Linked DNA regions of Homo sapiens. The protein of the gene in region 1 interacts with the protein of each later gene in a pairwise test. Each region holds a gene or a part of one and is shown on either strand. Other genes may lie near its edges. The genes, in order: GPRASP3, EIF3B, IPO5 and PTPA.

Region 1 (4,982 bases):
CCTGCACAACATGTGTATATCAGATCTTTCTAGTTCTTTTAAAATTTCTGATCTATTCCTATTATGGAGTGGGCTGGAGAAAGCAAGAAAGAATAGATGAGAACTACATGGTTTTTAAAGGTCATAATTGCTAAGTCAGTGTCACTGTGCTCTTTGTGCTGTAGCCTCAGTGCTTTGTATATTCTGTGTTGCTTACCATAACCCTTTACTAAAAGGATGCCATTTTTGCATAGTTGCCACTGCAGGTTACTGACTTTCTCCTCCTTTTAGTCACATGTCACAGAGAGGCTAATTCCATTTCCAAGAGTGAGTCTCTTTGGTCTACGGATAATCTATCCCCTTGGTACTCTCTTGTTTAGGAAGAGGCATTGATCAAATTCCACTCAATGTGACATTAGGGGAAGGTTACAGATGGACTTCTGAGGAAAGTGTCCTCATTCATAAGACAAAGTCATCAGAAAAGATTGTCTTTTCTTCTTCCTCAGGAAGTTGCTTACCTCCTGGAATTGTTGTAGCCATCAAGCTATCAGCCTTAGGACGGAAGTTGATATTGTGAATGGCAGAAGAAAGAGACGGAAAAAAGCTGAGTCCTTCGCTGAATTAAACAACCATCAAGGCTGCCCTACGTCAGTACTTACAATCATTGGATAATTAATTTCCTTATTAAGTTAGTTTTAGTTGAATTCCTTGTTATATGAAAATGGAACAATCCTAGATGTGCTCAGGCACAAAACAGCTCTTCAGTGAGTAAGAATTCCTGACTTGTGTCCATCAGTGAGCATCAGTGAGCACCTACATCTGCAGTAGCAGAACTCATGTTTCCCAGGAAAGAAAAGCCAGAAATTCTCAACACGTGTCCTAATGATTGCTAGAGGTCTGACAACTGTTTGGCTTCTGCTCCAGATTAAAAAGTAAAGCTTTAGGCAGAAGCCAAACTCTGACTTATCTAGGAGGTCCAGAGGTACATTAAATACTTAAGATAATAGATAAACCTAGTTTCAATTCAGAGGATCATTGTGTGAAGGTGCACCCTTGTGAAATATCCAGATTATAAAGATATCAAAGGTTACCTGCTTTCAGTTCAGGGGACTGTGCTGATATTGAGAAAGACACATTTACAGTGTCGACAGTTAGAACAATATGATTAATTTTCCCAGGTGCACTAAACAACAAAGGTATAGAAAGTCGTAGATACTTGAGATTTATCCAGAGTTGGGGTTTCTCCAGGACAGTGGAGCCAGGCACTAGAGGATGAGGTAGAAGAGTAGTAAAAATAAGTACTGTGATGGGCATTGGGTTGGGAAGGAAGGAAAGGGTGGAATAGGCTGATAAACAGGGAAAAAAGGATAAGGGACAGGAGGTCTAACAATATTCAGGTTTAATTTCTTTATGATAAATACTTTGCTACAAGCTTTGAGGAACAGAAGATCTGATTGTAAAAACAGTTACAATGATCATGGATGCTTTTATTGATAACTAGCACTGGAGGAATATAGACATAGCATAGAAGTAATGCACATCAGCTCCAGATTCAAACCACAAAGGTGGGAATGTCACCTCCTCTGCTAACCAACTCAGTGAGGTTGGCTAAGCTACTTAACCAATGTGTGCCTCAGCTTCCTCATATGTAGAATGGAAACAATAGCAGCACCTACCTCATAAGTTTGTTTTGAGGATTAACTAAGTGAATACATTTAGAGCCCTTAGTAGAGTACCCTGGCACATAGAAATCACCCAATAAATCCAATAAATCTTAATATTAACACAAATTACTATTTTAAGTAGTAAACATTCAGGCTTTGCAGTCAGACAGACTGGGGTTTGAATCACACTTCCAGAGTCCAAGCTTCTTTCTCTATGCTTCCTGTCCCTCAACACTAGTTCTATGTTATTCATTAAAAAATAAAAATAAAAAAATAAAAAGACTCTGATGCATGGTATAAAGAAACAAGTGGGATGGGCGCAGTGGCTCACGCCTGTAATCCCAGCACTTTGGGTGGCCGAGGCGGGTGGATCACCTGAGGTCAGGAGTTCAAGAGCAGCCTGGCCAACATGGCAAAACCCTGTCTCCACTAAAAATACAAAAATTAGCCGGGCATAAATTAATGGTGCAAAAATCAGTGGTGTGTGCCTGTAATCCCAGCTACTAGCGGGGCTGAGGCAGGAGGATCGCTTGAACTTGGGAGACAGAAGTTGCAGTGAGCTGAGATCGTGCCACTGCACTCCAGCCTGGGTGACGAAGTGAGACTCCGTCTCAAAAAAAAAAAAAAAAAGAAACAAGTGGCCAAGTGGCAAATAAAATATTGTGTAAGTACAAAGAATGGAGGAATTACTTCCTACCAAGGGGCAAGGGATAAGGGCGAGGAGGTATCAGACTTCAAAAAGGCCCTGGCATTTGAACTGAGCCCAAATGATGTTTCCCATAGACAGAAAAAGGGTAAGAACATTGAAGATTGAAGGGACAGCATGTGGGAAAGGCATAAAAGTAGTAAAGCACACAATACAGTTGGGAAAACAACAGATTTTCCAGTGGGGCTTGACTGCAGGCAAAGTGGGGCAAGGCCTGGAATAGTGTGAGGCACTTGAGAACAAGAGCTTCTTTCTTCATTTCATTCTAGTCCTGGCCTTGACTTGGAAGAATGTTATGAGAGATGGAGATAGAAAGGCAGACTTGTATTAAAGGGTGCAAGGTTGTGAAAGCCTTGATAGAAAATCTGGTGGTATTTTATAGATGAGATCCCATTGAAGGTTGCTCTTTTGAAATTGGGGGCAGAGTTGAGAATTAGTGGCTGCTAAAAGTCCAGACTAGACAGATGAAAAATTCACTCTGATACTATCCCCACACAACAACATTTTAGGCCAAGTGACATCTGAAGTAGCCTCTATTATATAAAGTAGCCCATAATATTTATCAAAAAAGGGAGAAGGAACAAGAGGACTGAGTGAATGATGAAGTTTTTATTTCAACTACACCCCAGAAAAATAATTGAGGAAGGATTCTACCCGCTACAAGTCAGAACAAAGGCAATCATCATTTTGCTTGGATACACACACACACACACACACACACACACACACACACCAGTCACCCTGCTCTTCGGCTGAGATTAAAAAATTCTACAGGCATAAACTGTTTAAGTATCTGCTTTGGAGTACATTTGGGACTTAGAAGTATTTAATCAGGCCACAATTTGAAGTTTTCTAAATATAAATGCAATACCCACAACAGGAATTCTAGGCTAAGGGAGCTGTGATAAGAAAAAAAATGATGACAGGATAGATGGATAGATAGATTAGATAGATAGACACATAGATAGATATAGATAAATAGATACATAGATAATTTTAAAAATTATCTAAATTACAGGTACATGCCACAAAAACAGACTGCTTTTTTCACCCATAATACACTGTTGGGTCTGAATCCTTCATTTTAACTTGTTGATGTAGAATACACAGCAAAGGTAAGCTTTATGTATATTAATCTAGGTGTGGCTGCTAAAACTAGGGAAAATTACACTATTGTTCTGATATCAAATATTTGAAACCAACTACTTGGAGTTAGCATTGGACTCCACAGGTTTAAGGGCACAATCACCAACAATACTGCCCCCACTTTAGATCAGATACCAGCCCCAATTCTCAGGAAGCCACCCATGCTTCTGACTGACCACTTATAAATTCAGGAGTTCCTATGACATTATGAGGTTTCATAATTAACTGAAACAACTCGTAGAACTCAAGAAAAGTGCTATTCTTATTATTACAGTTTCATTTAAGGATATACACAGGACAAGGTCTGAAAGCATTCTGGACACAAAGCTTCCATACCCTCTCCTTATGGAGTCAGGGTACACCACTCTCCCTAGAGAACAATATGTTCACCAACCAAGAAGCTCCACTTATCCCTGAAGTTCAAAGTTTTCACTGGGGTTTTATTACATAGGCAAGATTGATTAAACCATTGGTTGTGATTGAACTTAATACCTAGCCCCACTACCTTCCCTGAAGGTTGAGCTGGCCCAAAGTTCCAACCCTTTAATCACATGGTTGGTCCTTCTGGTGACCAGTCCCCATCCTGAAGCTATCTAGGGGCCCACCATAAGTCACTTCATTAGCATAACAAAGATACTCCTGTCACACAGGAAATTCCAAGATTTTTTGAAGCTGTGTCAGCAACTAGGGATAAAGATCAGCTATATTCTCTATTATACCACACCATACTTGAAGTCTTCTCTGTTGACATACTCGAAAAAACACACAGAGACAAGAGACAAGACAGCTTGAGTAGAAAACCATAAGCTGAATGCTGGCCCCAGTACTTATATTATCAGAATTCTGGAGAGTAAAGAGAAGAAAATAATAGGAGAGGGTAGGAGACGAGGATGCAGTCCTAGGGACTAATCTCTACCTATGATTTTGCCCCACATACCTTGTATCTATCCTAGCTTTTAAGTCTAAATAGGAGGGCTTAAAGTAGTAGAACAACATAGTTTCAACTCTATAAACTTGGTATAAACATAAGGATAGGAGTGGGATTAGAAAAAGTCATTTCTTCCTAGCAACACTTTCTTACACTGACTTTGTATGTATTGTGATATATGAAGAAATCAGCATTTGATCTTTTTTATTTTGATTGAAATTTGAAATGAGTTATTTTTAAAATTTTTTAAAATTTTTAATTCACATGGATATGCAATATTTGTACATATTTATGGGGTATAAATTATATTTTGATATAAGCATAGAATGTGTAATGTAATTGAGATATACATCACCTTAAATATTTATCATTTTGTTGCACTGAGGACATTCCAAATCTATTCTTCTAATTATACTGAAATATATAATAACTATTGTTAACTATAGGCACCCTATTGTGCTACTGAACACTAGATCATATTCCTTCTAACTGTATTGTTGTACCCATTAACCAACTCCTTTTTATACCCCATCCCCAATACCCTTTCCAGCCTTTGGTA
Region 2 (4,982 bases), on another chromosome or scaffold:
AAACTTAACCAGCAGTTTTGGAATACGAGTTGTGGGTAACGCGGCAGCTGGACTCAACCACTGACCCCAAAACAGATCTTAATGTCTGCGGTTATGGAACTCTGTTCAGACTTCAAAGGAAACGACTCCTCTCTGCAGACATTCTCACTCCTTTTCAGGGGTCCCTGGGCCCAGGGTAAGACCCCCCACCTCCCCGCAACCATGAGCAGGGGCTGCTCCTGCACTCGGCGCCACCTCTTCTACAACCCAGAATCCTCCTCCTCCTGCCACTAACACCAGCCAAGGCTTCTGTTCAACACAGAGGCTTGGTGCCCCTTCCCTGAGGTCCCAGGACAGCACCAGAGTCAGCAGCTAGCCAGCACTCCCTGCTTCTATCCACAGTCAAAACTATGCCCCACAGGCCTGCACCTTATGGCTCCACCAGGACACAGAGGTGACGACGTAGCGCCCAGTAGGATCCCATTCGACGTCGGAAGCCATGTAGTGCTCTGCGATGTTCATGACCGTGCAGTCCGAAGTGTCCACAAACGCTAAGGCACCGTTCATACTGCAAAGACAGACAGGACCGTCAGGCTTCATGGAGACGCATACCTCCTGGCATCCCACTCCTGAGAGGTGCTGCGGCATGGGGTCCCCAGGGAGCCAGCCTCGGCGTTAACATGGAAACAAGCACAGCAACAGCCTCTGGTGGCCGCTGTGAGACTTACCAAATCACAGATGCAGAGTGTGCAGTGAGTATTACATATGACTGCCATCATATTATTTTTACTGGAAATGTTATCTGAGGCTAAGTAAGCCTCCAAAAATACAGTAGCAAGTGTGGACAATGAAGCAAGGGAGAGCAGCAACAAAAGGGTATTCTTTTAACTCAGAGCAGAAAGCTGGAAGCTTCTCCATGATTTCGACACACTGCTGGAACACAGCTGAGACCGACACCGTGACACCAACCACAAAGGTAAGGCAGCCTCACAGCTGTGTAACGAATACCCTTCCCACTAGAAGACAAGGGACTGACCCCCGGGGGGAGGTTACTGGATGGCTGGAAGGCACTTGTTTAACCACAGAGAACCACAACCCGCAGACAGGTCTGCCTGGTCACTTCACGAAAGCATCTGGGAGCGCTTATTTCACTCTGTGCGGGCTTGGCCTGAGTCCTGGAGTACCGTGGGTCTGCAGAGGTTCAATGAAGTCCTATCCACTGACACTGGGGCAACCCTTTCAGCGCACAATACTCTCTCTACCAAGAAGCCGGGTGCAGGCGCCTGAGGGGTCTCTGCCACAGCAGAGCGCTACTCACAGGGCGGACAGGCTCAGAGCGCAGACACCTACCTCCTCAGGCCCGCCAACACCACGAACTGTCCTTGGGGGCTCCAGAAGATGGTGTTCGCCTGCTGCTTGTCGAACATCTCTGAAAGGAAAGAGCGCGCCTGTCACGAGCTGCGAGGGCTTCCACAGTGCCGGGGCAGCCAAGGCTGGAGGACTTGGCCGTGCTCATGCTGCCCATGAGGGCAGAGCTGGTAATGCTGGACCACCTCGGAAAACAATTTTACAAAGTCCATCGCCAAGTACCCCCTAAGTCATGATCCATACTTTAAATGGGAAAAAAAAGAAGATGCGACAGGGGTATTTCAAAACAATACTATCTTATTTCCTGAGGTAACTGGACAAAGAATTCCCTTTACAGCAAATGTTCACTGCTGCAGGGACCCCAACAGAGAGATGTCAGAGACGTGTGACCCCAAAAGACCAAAGCCACTCTCCTAGCGACAAGGCGTCTTTGGATAAGCTGTATGCTTGTTGAAACTGACTACAGTCATCATCTTTGCAGGTACTAACTCTTACTTCCGGAATGGATCTCGGGCAGAGCCGCTGGAACAGTGAGAAGTGAAGGCCAGCTGGGGCTGGCTCAAGTCCCCCTCAGAGCATATGCTCCCTGCATCTCAAACAGAGCTGACAACCTGTGGCCTCTCTCCCCTCAGCCTGTGGTACATCCAAAAAAGAGGCATGGGGCAGGCTGACGTGGGGAGGAGGGGAGGAGATGTGGGAGGGCAGTGCACCCTGGCAGGGGCAGGGGTCTCAGACTTGCACAAGCGAAAACCCCAACAGCCACGGGCATGGGATGGAGCCCATGCGGTGGCCCCAGCGTCCATGCCAAACCTCAGGAGAGGCGTGTCACGCAGCATGTTTGGAAGGTACAAGGTGCCTCTGCTTGCCTATGTTTTATGACCTAGAAGACTTACACAAGTCTCTGGACAGTCTGCAATTGCCCATATGTTTCTATCAACCAGAATTAATGAAACAGCCAATCTTGTAATCCACTGCCAACTGAGGGCACCACGCACCCTGCCAAGCTCTAGCAAAGTGAAAACTAAACTCCTCACAGAATCATGCTGCGAAAGGTGCGGCCAGGAGATTCCAACCCCTTCCTGGTACAGAGCCAAACCCATGGCTCTGCAGGAGGGCAGCTGGCAGCCAGAGTCCTGTGTGAGGAACACAGCCCATCGCCACCTCCTGGCTACCACACACACACACCCCACGCCTATGAAGCAACAAGCAATGGCTCATTCAATCCCCGCGGGCACCGGGCTCTGTGCTGAGCAGAGACCCCAGGATGAAGTGAGGAGCTGAGGGCACAGGCAGCAGGTGCCGTGAGACAGGCGAGGGCCCACGCACCACTGTGAGGAGCGAGCCCCAGGTGGGTGCAGTGTGGCACCCCTGGAACCGGGTGCACGGGGGCAGAGTACAGCTGTGTGCAACAGCTCTGCGCACCCTGGTCAAAGGCACCTGACCCAGACTGGGGACTGGCAGGAGTATGTCCACAGGAAGTGACCCCAAGCCCAGGGACAGCAGCTACAGCCAGAAGAGAAAAAGCTTCACTTGAGATGATGGCAGAGAATGGAAGCCTTGGAAATACTCGCTTAAACGTGAGGGCTCAACGGGGCTCAGAGAGACACCCTGCAAGGAGGCGGCACCTCCAGGCCATCGCTCACTTCCATCAGCCGAGGCCACACCCCATTCATAGGCGAGTCCCGGCCTGCCCAGCAGTGGTCCTAGGCCAGTCAAATGCTCACTGTTGGGCAGCGACTGGGTCATCATCTGTGCTGACCTACTCAGAAGAGGAAAGGGACCAGGTTACTTACTGATGAGTTCAATCTTCCCGTTGTTTTTGACGTGGTAGAAAGACACAGATATCCGCGGAGCCTCTCCGTGCAGCACAGCAAACTTACTTCCATTTGGTTCCCAGGCAAAGGCTATGATGGTTTCTAAAATGCACAAAACAGACCCCTCCCTTTTTGGTCAATTCAGAACATAGTGCTCTTGATCAGTTAAAATGTTCACTATTCAACCACAGAGAAATATCCCCCGACGTGTAAAAGTTCATTAAAAGGACGGGAGAGCAAGCAACAGCAGGAAAGGTGCACATTCCTGGAGTTTCAGAGACAGCTGCTTCCACTTGTGTGGAGTGACCTACGTGAAACTGCTCCCTTCCTGAGAGCAGGACACCCACAGCAGGACCGCAGGAGCCCGACATTGTCAGCAGCTGTGGATGCCGCTTCCCTCGCACCCAGTGTGCACCTACAGTGGGATCCTGACCTCCGGTCTCCCTGCCTGGAAGGGCGGCCATGTTTCCCATTTTCTCACCTATTTTTAACCCTTCCTTCCTCCTTTTCTCCATGGCAAAACAAAAAGCCAAACAAGAACACAGGCTCAATCTCTTTTCTCTTTTTTTTAGACAGGGTCTTGCTCCGTCACCCAGGCTGGAGTGCAGGGGCGCAATCTCAGTTCACTGCAACCTCTGCTCCTGGGCTCAAGTGATCCTCCCGCTTCAGCGTCTCAAACAGCTGGGACTATCGGTGCGCACCACCACACCTGGCTAATTTTTTTTATTTGTTTTTTGTACAGAGAGGGTCTCACTATGTTGCCCAGGCTCTAAACACGTTCTGTGACCTGGAGATGACTATTCATGGTGAGGGCTCACAGTCCTGACTCAGCTGCTCAGACAACCCCTCGCATGGAAGTGTTAAAGCCAAGAGTAAAACAGCACGTAGGCCCCATTCGCCTCAAAGTGACTAAAATACAACTTGCCTTTCATCTCGACCACATCCACAGGTACCTGTTTCTCCCTCATTCGGAAAATTTCAAAATTTGTGACAACACCCTGTTTAAAAAAAAGGGGGAAGGGGTGACATTCTGGACAGTGAAAATATGAGAAAAGGTTTAAATCAAAGATCAACGTCACAATGAAAGATTCAGTGTGCATGCCTGGTTCACACACGAGCATGTGCAGTGATGAAAGCCACAGCCCTCAGGATGGAAGACGGTTCTAAGGCTGGAGAACTGCCGGCACCACGTCTACTGGAAGCCACTGGACATGCATGAAGTAACTCTGACCCAGATCCCACCTCCAGGAGCCGCCCTGCCCGCCACACTTGGGCACAAGCAGTCCCAGGGTCCACACTGCAGGCTGCAGGCCAGGGTCCTGAGGGCCCTAAAGGCACACCAATGGGGCTGGGTAAACCACTTCAGACAGTGGGGTGTCCTGTAGCCATAACCTTCAAGAAGTCCTGCCCTACTCGAGGAGTCTGAGGGAAAACTGCCCTGATGTCCATCAACAGAGGAAGGAGGCCAAGAAACGGGGTCCACCCAACAAGAGATTACTGCTGACACTCAGCACCGTGGACCAGCTGTGGGAACGCTGTGCTCCGTGAAGGAGGTCAAACACAGAAGGTGGCATAGTATCCGATTCCAGCTGTGTGTTCAGAATAGGGAAATCATAGACATTCGTGATGCCAGGAGCTGGGCGGAGAGGCTGCTAACAGGTATGTTGTTTCTTTGTAGGGTGACAAAAACATTTATTTATTTATTTATTTTTGAGACGGAGTCTCACTCTGTTGCCCAGGCTGGAGTGCAGTGGTGCAATCTCGGCTCACTGCAAGCTCCGCCTCCCGGGTTCACGCCATTCTCCTGCCTCAGCCTCCCGA
Region 3 (4,982 bases), on another chromosome or scaffold:
TGAACACTTTGAAGAACTGGGAGGTATATTGAAAGCAAAGCTTGAAGAACATTTTAAAAATCAAGAATTACGACAAGGTAAGTTTTCCATGCTTTTATTTCTGAATATAATCCTTGACCATCTTGGCAATCATTTAAAACATTTATTTGGGTGTGTTTTAGTTAAAAGACAAGATGAAGACTATGATGAACAGGTCGAAGAGTCACTACAAGATGAGGTAAGTTATTCCCTTTGGAACTTACTTACGTGACCACTTGCATCTGAAAGACTTGTAAATGCCTCAATTTCTGATTTATGTGACTTGTCATTCTGATGTAATTATCAGTCTTTAGCAGAGGAGTCAGATATATTTCCTCTCTTAATTTATGAATAAGTAATTTGAAATTAAACTGATATGTCTTTCGGTGCTATGTGCATTTTGTTGTAATACCTCACTCAACAAAACACCTTGAGGTTTACCTAGTTCATTTACATACTGCTCACAACAACCATTTGTATTTTGTGGTGCTTTCACTATATTAAAGATGAGTAACCTAAAATTCCAGTGTTAAATGATTGCCTAGAGTCACACTGTTGACGGTCTGGGGCCTTTTTCACCATGTTACTTAGTTCTCTCATCAAACCACCTAGGACTGTCAAGCATACTTCATTGTGTGTTTAGAGTCCAGCATCTCATATGTGGCCACTTGGTGGGCCAGTGCTACCGTGTAGGTAGTACCAGCTTCCTGAAGGTGCCCACATGCTTGTAGGCCCAAATTGCCACTAACAGCGAGACCCCATTCTCCCCACCATCCACCCCGAAATGAGGATTATTCTGCTGAAAACAAAGTAAAAATAGTGAAAACACCTTTGTTTCAGAATGTAGAAATTAGAGATAATTTTTCAACCCATCTATTTTAAGTATGTTCCAAGGAAAATCTTTGCAATAAATACAGTTCTTGCCACACACCTTTGTCTTTCGAGGTAAGACTGGCCTTTGATTAGTAAGAGACATGATAACCCACACTTGAGGGTTACTCCGGTCTCTAGACTCTTGATTTACCCTTAAAACAGGAATGAGAAATTGATTTTCTGCATTTTTTAAGGTTTTTATAAATGTTACTATTGATAATAGAAAATATACTTTTTAATCCATATGAGTGTTTATGTGTATGTTTTTTTTAGGATGATAATGATGTTTATATTCTGACCAAAGTGTCAGATATTTTACACTCAATATTCAGTAGCTACAAAGAAAAGGTGTTACCATGGTTTGAACAGCTGCTTCCATTAATTGTCAACCTCATTGTAAGTGTTACCTCTCTTAATAGTTGTTTTGCGTAGTTTACCTGGAATTCTTTTCACTGCAACGTAAAATCTAATGCTTGAAGTTAAAATGGGTCTCAGAAATGATTGTTTCCATTGTACATCTTTGATTTTATCAAGTTGACTGCATTACCCTGGATATTTTCTCATTCATTATATGCTTGAAGATTCCTAACTTGGTTTTCCATAGGCCAATTCAGTTCTAACACATCTGAAAGATATATAAGTGATTTTTTTTATTATTTCAGATTATCTGTGCCCTCCTAAATTAATAAAAGGAAACAGAATGGTTACTTCTTTTTTAGTGGACCATAGATAATTCAATTATCTTTGTTATGTACTACCAGCAATCATGGATTATGGATAATGGGCATATATATATATATATGTATTTTTTTTTTACCTTCTCTCACCCTTATATTTGATTTTTTTAAAATGTTTTATAGACTTCTTTTTGTTTGTTTGTTTGTTTGTTTTTCTCAAGATGGAGTCTTGCTCTGTCGCCCAGGCTGGAGTGCAGTGGTGCAATCTCGGCTCACTGCAACCTCCGCCTTCTGGGTTCAAGCAATTCAGACGCACGCCACCACACCCGACGAATTTTTTGTATTTTAGTAGAGATGGGGTTTCACCATGTTGACCAGGCTGGTCTCCAACTCCTGACCTAGTGATCCACCCGCCTCGGCCTCCCAAAGTGCTGGGATTACAGGCATGAGCCACTGCGCCCAGGCCTACGCTTCCTATTTTAAAGCAGTTTTAGATTCACAACCAAATTGAACAGGAGGTACAGAGATTTCCCATGTGCCTCTGCCCCTGTGCGTGCATGGCCTCAGCACCATTAACACCCCCCATCACAGTAGTAGATACATGTGTTTCTGTTATGGACCTACATCAACACATCATATAATGGCCTATGTGTATTCAGTTTTTTTGTTTGTTTTGTTTTTTTGTATTTTTAGTTGTGTTTTTTTGTTGGGTTTTTAGTAGAGATGGGGTTTCACCATATCGGCCAGACTGGTCTCAACCTCCTGACCTTGTGATCCGCCCACTTTGGCCTCCTAAAGTGCTGGGATTACAGGCGTGAGCCACCTCGCCTGGCTGTGTATTCGGTTTTTAAAAAATATATTATAAATTAGCAGCTATCATCAGATGTTTGGAATTTTTCTTTTTGGCTTTCAATTTTGCATTTTATTGTATTAAGTAGTGCAGTACATTTTTTAAAAGATTCGGGCACACATGACTTAGCCTGTTGAATAAATGCTATAAGTTAAGATCTTTGCAGCTTTTATTATTATTGTATTTTTTTAATGTAGCATTACCATTGTCTTTTTTACAAAGTAAATTTATATACAATGCTTCCACTGTCAGTTCTTCTGTGTGATAGTGTCAGATTGTAGAGTTCTGTAACAAATCATACAAGTCTTTGAAACCTAAATTTTATTAAATCTGTGTATTTGATTGAATATCGTTGGTCACAAGAAGTGGTTGTTACTATGTTTTCTTTTTTCTTTTGCCTGTATGAGGAATATCAATGTAAGCAGATAGTCTATAGTGAATATTTCTTTACATTCTTTGTGTACACCAGTATTTGAAGCTTAAAAGAGAATTTCTTTTGTAGTGTCCACATAGACCATGGCCAGACAGACAATGGGGATTATGCATCTTTGATGATGTCATAGAACACTGTAGTCCAGCCTCATTTAAATACGCAGAATATTTCTTAAGACCAATGCTCCAATATGTATGTGACAACAGCCCAGAAGTCAGGCAAGCAGCTGCATATGGCCTGGGAGTCATGGCACAGTACGGTGGAGATAATTATCGCCCTTTTTGTACAGGTACGTTTGCTTATTCCGTTACGTGCATTTCATTCCAGACATCCTGTGAATCCCTACTTTACTCTCTTTACCACACTCCCAAACATTATTTGCCTATTTCTGCTGTAGTCTGTTTTCAGACATCTCATCTGTAGCATTTAGGATTTTAGATGATAAAAAGATGATTTATTCTCATAGAAATAGAATCAAAGACATCCCCTGCCCCCAGCCTTCCAGGGTGCATTTCTCTTTGCGTTTTGGCAATATACAACAGCCTTAGAATAGGACTTTTTTTTTTTTCTTTAATTGAGGCCCAGGCTGGAGTGCAGTGGCATGATCTCGGCTCACTGCAACCTCCGCCTCCCGGGTTCGAGCAATTCTGCTTCAGCCTCCTGAGTAGCTGGGACTACAGGCGCATGCCACCACGCCTGGCTAATTTTTTCTATTTTTAGTAGAGATGGGGTTTCACCATGTTAGCCAGGATGGTCTCGATCTCCTGACCTCGTGATCGGCCCACCTCAGCCTCCCAAAGTGCTGAGATTACAGGCGTGAGCCACCACACCTGGCAGAATAGGACTTTTAAAACTTACTGGGGAATATAGTTAGGCAGCTTTTAAAGTTTAAGGACCCTCGGGTGATGTGATGAGTACTGTAAATCTGGAGGCCACTAATCTCTCTGGGTCTCTAAGTTAGTAGAGGGCTAGTGCTCCTGTCCATGCTGGGGCAGTCCCCCCTCTGTTGCCATTCTGTAATGACATAGCCAAGAAGACAACACTTCCCATACACTTTAACATTTCTTTACCATAATCAATATCTGAACCAAATACAAAAATACATATATTCATTTGCATGAAAATGTGAGGTTTTAGCTGAACTTCTTTCAAATGCTTATTTTAGAAGCACTTCCCCTGCTGGTAAGAGTTATTCAGTCTGCGGATTCTAAGACCAAAGAAAATGTCAATGCTACAGAGAACTGCATCTCAGCAGTAGGGAAAATCATGAAGTTCAAGCCTGACTGTGTAAACGTTGAAGAGGTCCTTCCACACTGGTTGTCTTGGCTTCCACTACATGAAGATAAAGAAGAAGCTGTTCAGACTTTCAATTATCTGTGTGACCTGATTGAAAGGTAGGAAAGCAGACTGTGACCTTATTTCCTTCTCCTCCACAGTGCTTCCTGGTTTTTCTTGCCTAACATCAGTCTTTTAAGGTTTAACCACATGATCTCTGCACAGTCCTCAGTTGTATAGGTTTATAATAGTGCTGTCTTTATAAATCATATTAAGAAACCATATCACAGTTAACATTGCCCTTATAATAAGGTCTAATTTTGAGTTATTCTTTATGAAATTAGATTCAACAGATGAGGCACTTTAATTATTTATTTCTTTGTTTTTAAATTTTTTTGGTAGCGACAAGGTCTTAACTGTTTTGCACAGGCAGGTCGCAAACTCTTGGCCTCAAGAGATCCTCCCACCTCAGCCTCCCAAAGTGCTGGGATTACAGGCATGAGCCACCAAACCCAGCCTAAGGGAATGTTGTTTAGTGTCTGTTTTCTAAGTCCAAGTTCCCCCCAAATATCAGTCAGATCTAAGCTCTGTCGCTATTATTATTTTTAGGTTATGAATAAATTCAAGGGCTACAACCACTGCCACTATTGTAGCAATAGGCCAACAGGTATATTCTCCATACTTGTTTAAGTTCAGGTTCACATAAGAAATGGGTTTGAGTCTTCCACTGACCATATCATTAAGGAATGTAACAGCCATCCTGCAGACTACATACTCCTGACCTGCTCCTACATCTGAAATGACCAGGTCTTAATCATGCTATTTGATCATCTTCCTTGGAAACGACTACTCTGAA
Region 4 (4,982 bases), on another chromosome or scaffold:
TTATGTGGGCCTATCTTTTTTTTCTCTTTTTTAAATTTGAGACGGAGTCTTGCTGTGTTGCCCAGGCTGGAGTGCAGTGGCGTGATCTTGGCTCACTGCAACCTCTGCCTCCTGGGTTCAAGCGGTTCTTCTGCCTCAGCCTCCCGAGTAGCTGGGATTACAGGTGTGCGCCACCATGCCTGGCTAATTTTTTGTATTTTTAGTAGAGGTGGAATTTCGCTATGTTGGCCAGGCTGGTCTTGAACTCCTGGCCTCAAGTGATCCACCCGCCTCGGATTCCCAAAGTGTTGGGATTACAGGTGTGAGCCACCACACCCAGCCTCTTTTTTTTTTTAAGACAGTCTCACTCTGTCACCCAGGCTGGAGTGCAGTGGAACGGTCCAGCTCACTGCAAGCTCTGCCTCCCCAGTTCAAGCGATTCTCCTGCTTCAGCCTCCCAAGTAGCTGGGATTACAGGTGTGTGCCGTCATGTCAGGCTAATTTTTGTATTTTTTAGTAGAGATGGGGTTTCAATATGTTTCCCAGGCCTGGTCTGGAACTCCTGACCTCAAATGATCCACCTACCTCAGCCTCCCAAAGTTCTGGGATTACAGGTGTGAGTCACCATGCCGGACCTGGGCATATCATTATTTACCCATTGTCTTATCAACTGATATTTGAGTTGTTTCTTTTTTTTTTTTTTCCCCCGAGATGGAGTCTTGCTCTGTCAACCAGAGCTGGAGCGCAATGGCACGATCTCAGCTCACTGTAACCTCTGCCTCCTGGGTTCAGGCAATTCTCCTGCCTCAGCCTCCTGAGTAGCTAGGATTACAGGTGTGCGCCACCACACTTGGCTAATTTTTGTATTTTTAGTAGAGATGGGGTTTCACCTTGTTGGCCAGGCTGGTTTCGAACTCCTGATCTCGTGATCTGCCTGTCTTGGCCTCCCAAAGTGCTGGGATTACAGGTGTGAGCCACCACGCCCAGCCTATTTGGGTTGTTTCTAATTAATAAAAAATTTTTTTATTTGAGTCAGAGTTTCACTCTTGTTGCCTAGGCTGGAGTGCGATGGCACGATCTTGGCTCACTGCAACCTCTGCCTCCTGGTTCAAGCAATTCTCCTTCCTCAGCCTCCCAAGTAGCTGGGATTATAGGCATGCGCCACCACACCTGAATAATTTTATATTTTTAGTAGAAATGGGGTTTCACTATGTTGGTCAGGCGCATCTCCAACTCCTGACCTCAGGTGTGATCCACCCACTTTGGCCTCCCAAAGTGCTGGGATTGTAGGCATGAGCCACCGCGCCCCGCCTAAAATTTTTTTTTTTTTAAAGTAGAGATGGGGTCTCGCTGTGTTGCCCAGGTTGGTGTCAAACTCCTGGACTCAAGTGATCCTCCCACCTGGGGCTCCCAAAGTGCTGAGATTACAGGTGTGAGCCACTATGCCCAGCTTTTTTTTTTTTTTTTGATGCATTAAACACCTTTGTGTTTCCGTGAGCACATCTGAAAGATAGATTCCTGTAAGTAGACCTGTTGACTCATTGTGTATATGCAGTTTTTTATTCCAAAAGATTGTCCCCTTAGGAGGTCCTTCCCACCCACAGAGCGGGAGAATTCTTGTTTCCTCTTCCTGGAATCTTGTTTTGTTTTTATTGAGACAGAGTCTCGTTCTGTTGTCCAGGCTGGAGTGCAGTGGTATGATCTCAGCTCACTGCAACCCCCACCTCCTGGACTCAGGTGATCCTCCTGCTTCAGCCTCCCAAGTAGCTGGGACTACAGGTATGCAACCACACCCAGCTAATTTTTAAATTTTTTTTGTAAAGATGGCGTTTTGCCAAGTTGGCCAGCCTGGTCTTGAACCCCTGGCCTCAAGTGATCTGCCTGCCTTGGCCTCCCAAATTGCTGGGATTAGGTATGAGCCACCACACCTAGCCAGATGTTTTTAATTTGCCAACCTTATCCAGAAAGAGAAATCACATATAATTTACGTGTCCGTGCTTATTCAGGAGGTTGGCAATTTATTCCAAATGTTTACTGCAATTAGGTTTTTTTTTTTTTTTTGAGACGAAGTCTCGCTCTGTTGCCTGGGTTGGAGTGCAGTGGTGCAATCTCGGCTCACCACAAGCTCCGCCTCCCAGGTTCACGCCATTCTTCTGCCTCAGCCTCCCAAGTAGCTGGGACCGCAGGCGCCCGCCACCACGCCTGGCTAATTTTTTTGTACTTTTTTAGTAGAGATGGGATTTCACCATGTTAGCCAGGATGGTCTCGATCTCCTTACCTTGTGATCTGCCTGCCTTGGCCTCCCAAAGTGCTGGGATTACAGGCGTGAGCCACCGCACCTGACCTGTTTTTTTTTCTTCTGTGAATTGCCTGTGTATGTCTGAAACATCAACTTGGTTTTATTTTTCTAACGGTTCTGCTCTGGGGGGGAGAGGGAAGGGAGGGCATGGTTATTGAAGGGATTGTCAGTATTGCCCTTCTCTTTCCTCCCCAGAGTGAGGGAGGGCAGGAGGCTGTGGGTTTGGCTTAACAAGCCCTTACTCTGTCCTGGAAGTATGTGTCTGGTTTATTCTAAGGCTCAGGTGTTGGAGTCCTGGTTTAAAAGTGAGAGAGAGGCCGGGCGCTTTGGCTCATACCTGTAATCCCAACACTTTGGAGGCCAAGGCGGGTGGATCACCTGAGGTCAGGAGTTTGCGATCAGCCTGGCCAACATGGTGAAACCCCGTCTCTACTAAAAATGCAAAAATTAGCTAGGCATGGTGACATACGTCTGTAATCCCAGCTACTCAGAACACTGAGGCAGGAGAATCGCTTGAACCCGGGAGGCAGAGGTTGCAGTGAGCTGAGATCGCGCCACTGCACTCCAGCCTGGGCGACAGAGCGAGACTCTGTCTCAAAGAAAAAAAAAAAAATTAGCTGGGTGTGGTGGCACGTGCCTGTAATCTCAGCTACTCAGGAGACTGAGGCAGGAGAATCGCTTGAACCCTGGAGGTGGAGGTTGCATTGAGCCAAGATCGTGTCACTGGACTCCAGCCTGGGCAACAAGAGCAAAACTCCGTCTCAAGAAAAAAAAAAAAGGTGAAAGGGAGTGTGTGTGTTGTAGGGGAGGATTCTATTTATCTGTTTGTTTTTTCATTTTTTTTTGTCAAGATTCTTCAGAGGAGGCCCCTCCAGCCACTCAGAACTTCATCATTCCAAAAAAGGAGATCCACACAGTTCCAGACATGGGCAAATGGAAGCGTTCTCAGGTACCATTTGGAACTGTGGTGAGAAACTTGGGCTTTTCAAAGACAGTGGTTTTCCTAGCATGACGGGCGGTGAGTTCCTGGCCCTTCTTGCTCTTGGAGCCTGACTTTTCAGAAGCTAGGGAGAAAGGTGACAGGGGAGCTGGCTGTCTCTTCCCTTCAGAGGCAGTACTCAGAGATGCTTTATCAGGAAGGTTGCCTACTTTTTCAGGCTGCTGCCAGGGTAGCCCGGGAGAGTTCCGCTCCTGGTTCTCTTAAGCCATTGCCCCTTGAGTGTTGCTGTATTGGCTGAACATGAGTGTTTGAAATGATGGAGCGAGTCACTTTGATTCTTGGCTGCAAGTAACAGCAAGTGTGGCAGCCAGTGCCTCAAGGGGAGAAGAGGCTATCTCATGGAAACTTTGGCCAGGGATATGGCTAAGCCTGCAAATACCTGGGAGCTGGGACCCAGAGCACTGGGCACAGACTGGCTTTCTCTGCTGCTCAGCTGAAATGATGGGCAGAAGATAACTACTTGTACCTCTCAGGCTTGTGGTACAGGCTGTGGAAAGACAGACTGAGCAAAAGAAAGCCAATTTCAATTTCTCAGGGAAGGCCTCTGGCCCAGTTCTCGTCAGGCTCCTGCTCCCGGCCTGGTGAGCTGGGCTGGAGAGTGTTGCTCATGCAGAAGGCTGGGCACAGGGGTCCTTGCATGCTGGGCAGATTCTCCAGGAGACCCACACCCTACAGCTTCTATGCCTTGTCCTCACTGGGGCTTGGGGCCATCTAAACCTGTCTGATTCCTTTTTCACAAGCCTGCCCTCTCAGTATTTGGAAATAGTTATCATGTCTTTTCTGAATCTTCACCAGGATCAACAGTCCCTTCAGCCTAGGGGGCAGCTTGGTCCCTTCAGCTGCTCAAAGGATATGGTTTCAGTCCTTTCATCATCTTGGTTGCTTTACCTCGGGGCATCTCAATGTCAGCACTATGGACATTGAGGGGCAGATAATTCTTCATTGTAGGAGGCCGTCCTGTGCCATGTAGGACGTTTACTAATATCTCTGGCTTCTACCCACTAGATGTTGGCAGCATGCCTTTCCCCAGCTGTCACAACTAACATTGTCTCCAGATCTTGTCAGATCTTCTCTGAGCCAGATTGCTCTAGTTGAGAACCTGCTTCTTTGTCTGAATCCAAATGTGACACTTCCTTTGCTGCTTCTCATCCATGTGTTCCAGTGTAGCTGCAGTCAGGACAGGGGCTCAGACTTGCCCTGGTCTGAGAGAGTTGCTTTGGAGAGGCCTGGCCTGCTGGGGGTCATCCCATGGCTGGCAGGAGGATCTTGGTATAGGAATACTTCCTTCTAGATATCAGGGCTTGTCTCAGGGCTTACTGTGGACACCCCGGCTTGGATAAGGAGAAAGGAAGAAAGAGAGAGGAAAAAGGGATGAAGAAGAAACAAAACCAATCAGGAGTCACTTGTTCCCAGCAACTGCCTCTCTAGGGGCCTGCACCTCAATGCTATTTTTTTTTTTGAGACAGGGTCTCACCCTGGCCCCCAGGCTGGAGTTCAGTGATATGATCATGGCTCTCTGCAGCCTCCACCTCTTGGGCTCAAGCAGTCCTCCCACCTCAGCCACCTGAGTAGCTGGGACCACAGGCACGTACCACCACACCTGGCAAACTTTTTAATTTTTTGTAGAGATGGGGTCTCACTATGTTGCCCAGGCTGGTCTCAAGCTCCTGGGTTCAAGTGATCCTCCTGCATCAGCCTCCCAAA

What was found.
Region 2: the proteins of GPRASP3 (region 1) and EIF3B interact in a two-hybrid assay, tested with the Homo sapiens proteins (one large-scale study listed by BioGRID).
Region 3: the proteins of GPRASP3 (region 1) and IPO5 interact in a two-hybrid assay, tested with the Homo sapiens proteins (one study listed by BioGRID).
Region 4: the proteins of GPRASP3 (region 1) and PTPA interact in a two-hybrid assay, tested with the Homo sapiens proteins (one study listed by BioGRID).

What each region holds. Positions count from the first base shown.
Region 1 is NC_000023.11:102,722,819-102,727,800, reverse strand, and holds part of GPRASP3 (G protein-coupled receptor associated sorting protein 3), read right to left. Parts: exon of another isoform or gene 2,940-4,982; intron 1-2,939. UniProt on the Homo sapiens protein: Survival and differentiation promoting protein that plays a role in the regulation of neurosynaptogenesis. Induces phosphatase PP2A activity which results in APP dephosphorylation and inhibits BACE1-mediated processing of APP.
Region 2 is NC_000007.14:2,370,954-2,375,935, reverse strand, and holds part of EIF3B (eukaryotic translation initiation factor 3 subunit B), read right to left. Parts: intron 4,160-4,982; coding exon 4,087-4,159; intron 3,264-4,086; coding exon 3,141-3,263; intron 1,409-3,140; coding exon 1,330-1,408; intron 548-1,329; coding exon 409-547; intron 1-408.
Region 3 is NC_000013.11:98,015,565-98,020,546, forward strand, and holds part of IPO5 (importin-5), read left to right. Parts: coding exon 1-77; intron 78-161; coding exon 162-217; intron 218-1,164; coding exon 1,165-1,287; intron 1,288-2,920; coding exon 2,921-3,140; intron 3,141-4,016; coding exon 4,017-4,245; intron 4,246-4,982. UniProt on the Homo sapiens protein: Functions in nuclear protein import as nuclear transport receptor. Serves as receptor for nuclear localization signals (NLS) in cargo substrates.
Region 4 is NC_000009.12:129,117,384-129,122,365, forward strand, and holds part of PTPA (serine/threonine-protein phosphatase 2A activator), read left to right. Parts: intron 1-3,129; coding exon 3,130-3,227; intron 3,228-4,982. UniProt on the Homo sapiens protein: PPIases accelerate the folding of proteins. It catalyzes the cis-trans isomerization of proline imidic peptide bonds in oligopeptides. Acts as a regulatory subunit for serine/threonine-protein phosphatase 2A (PP2A).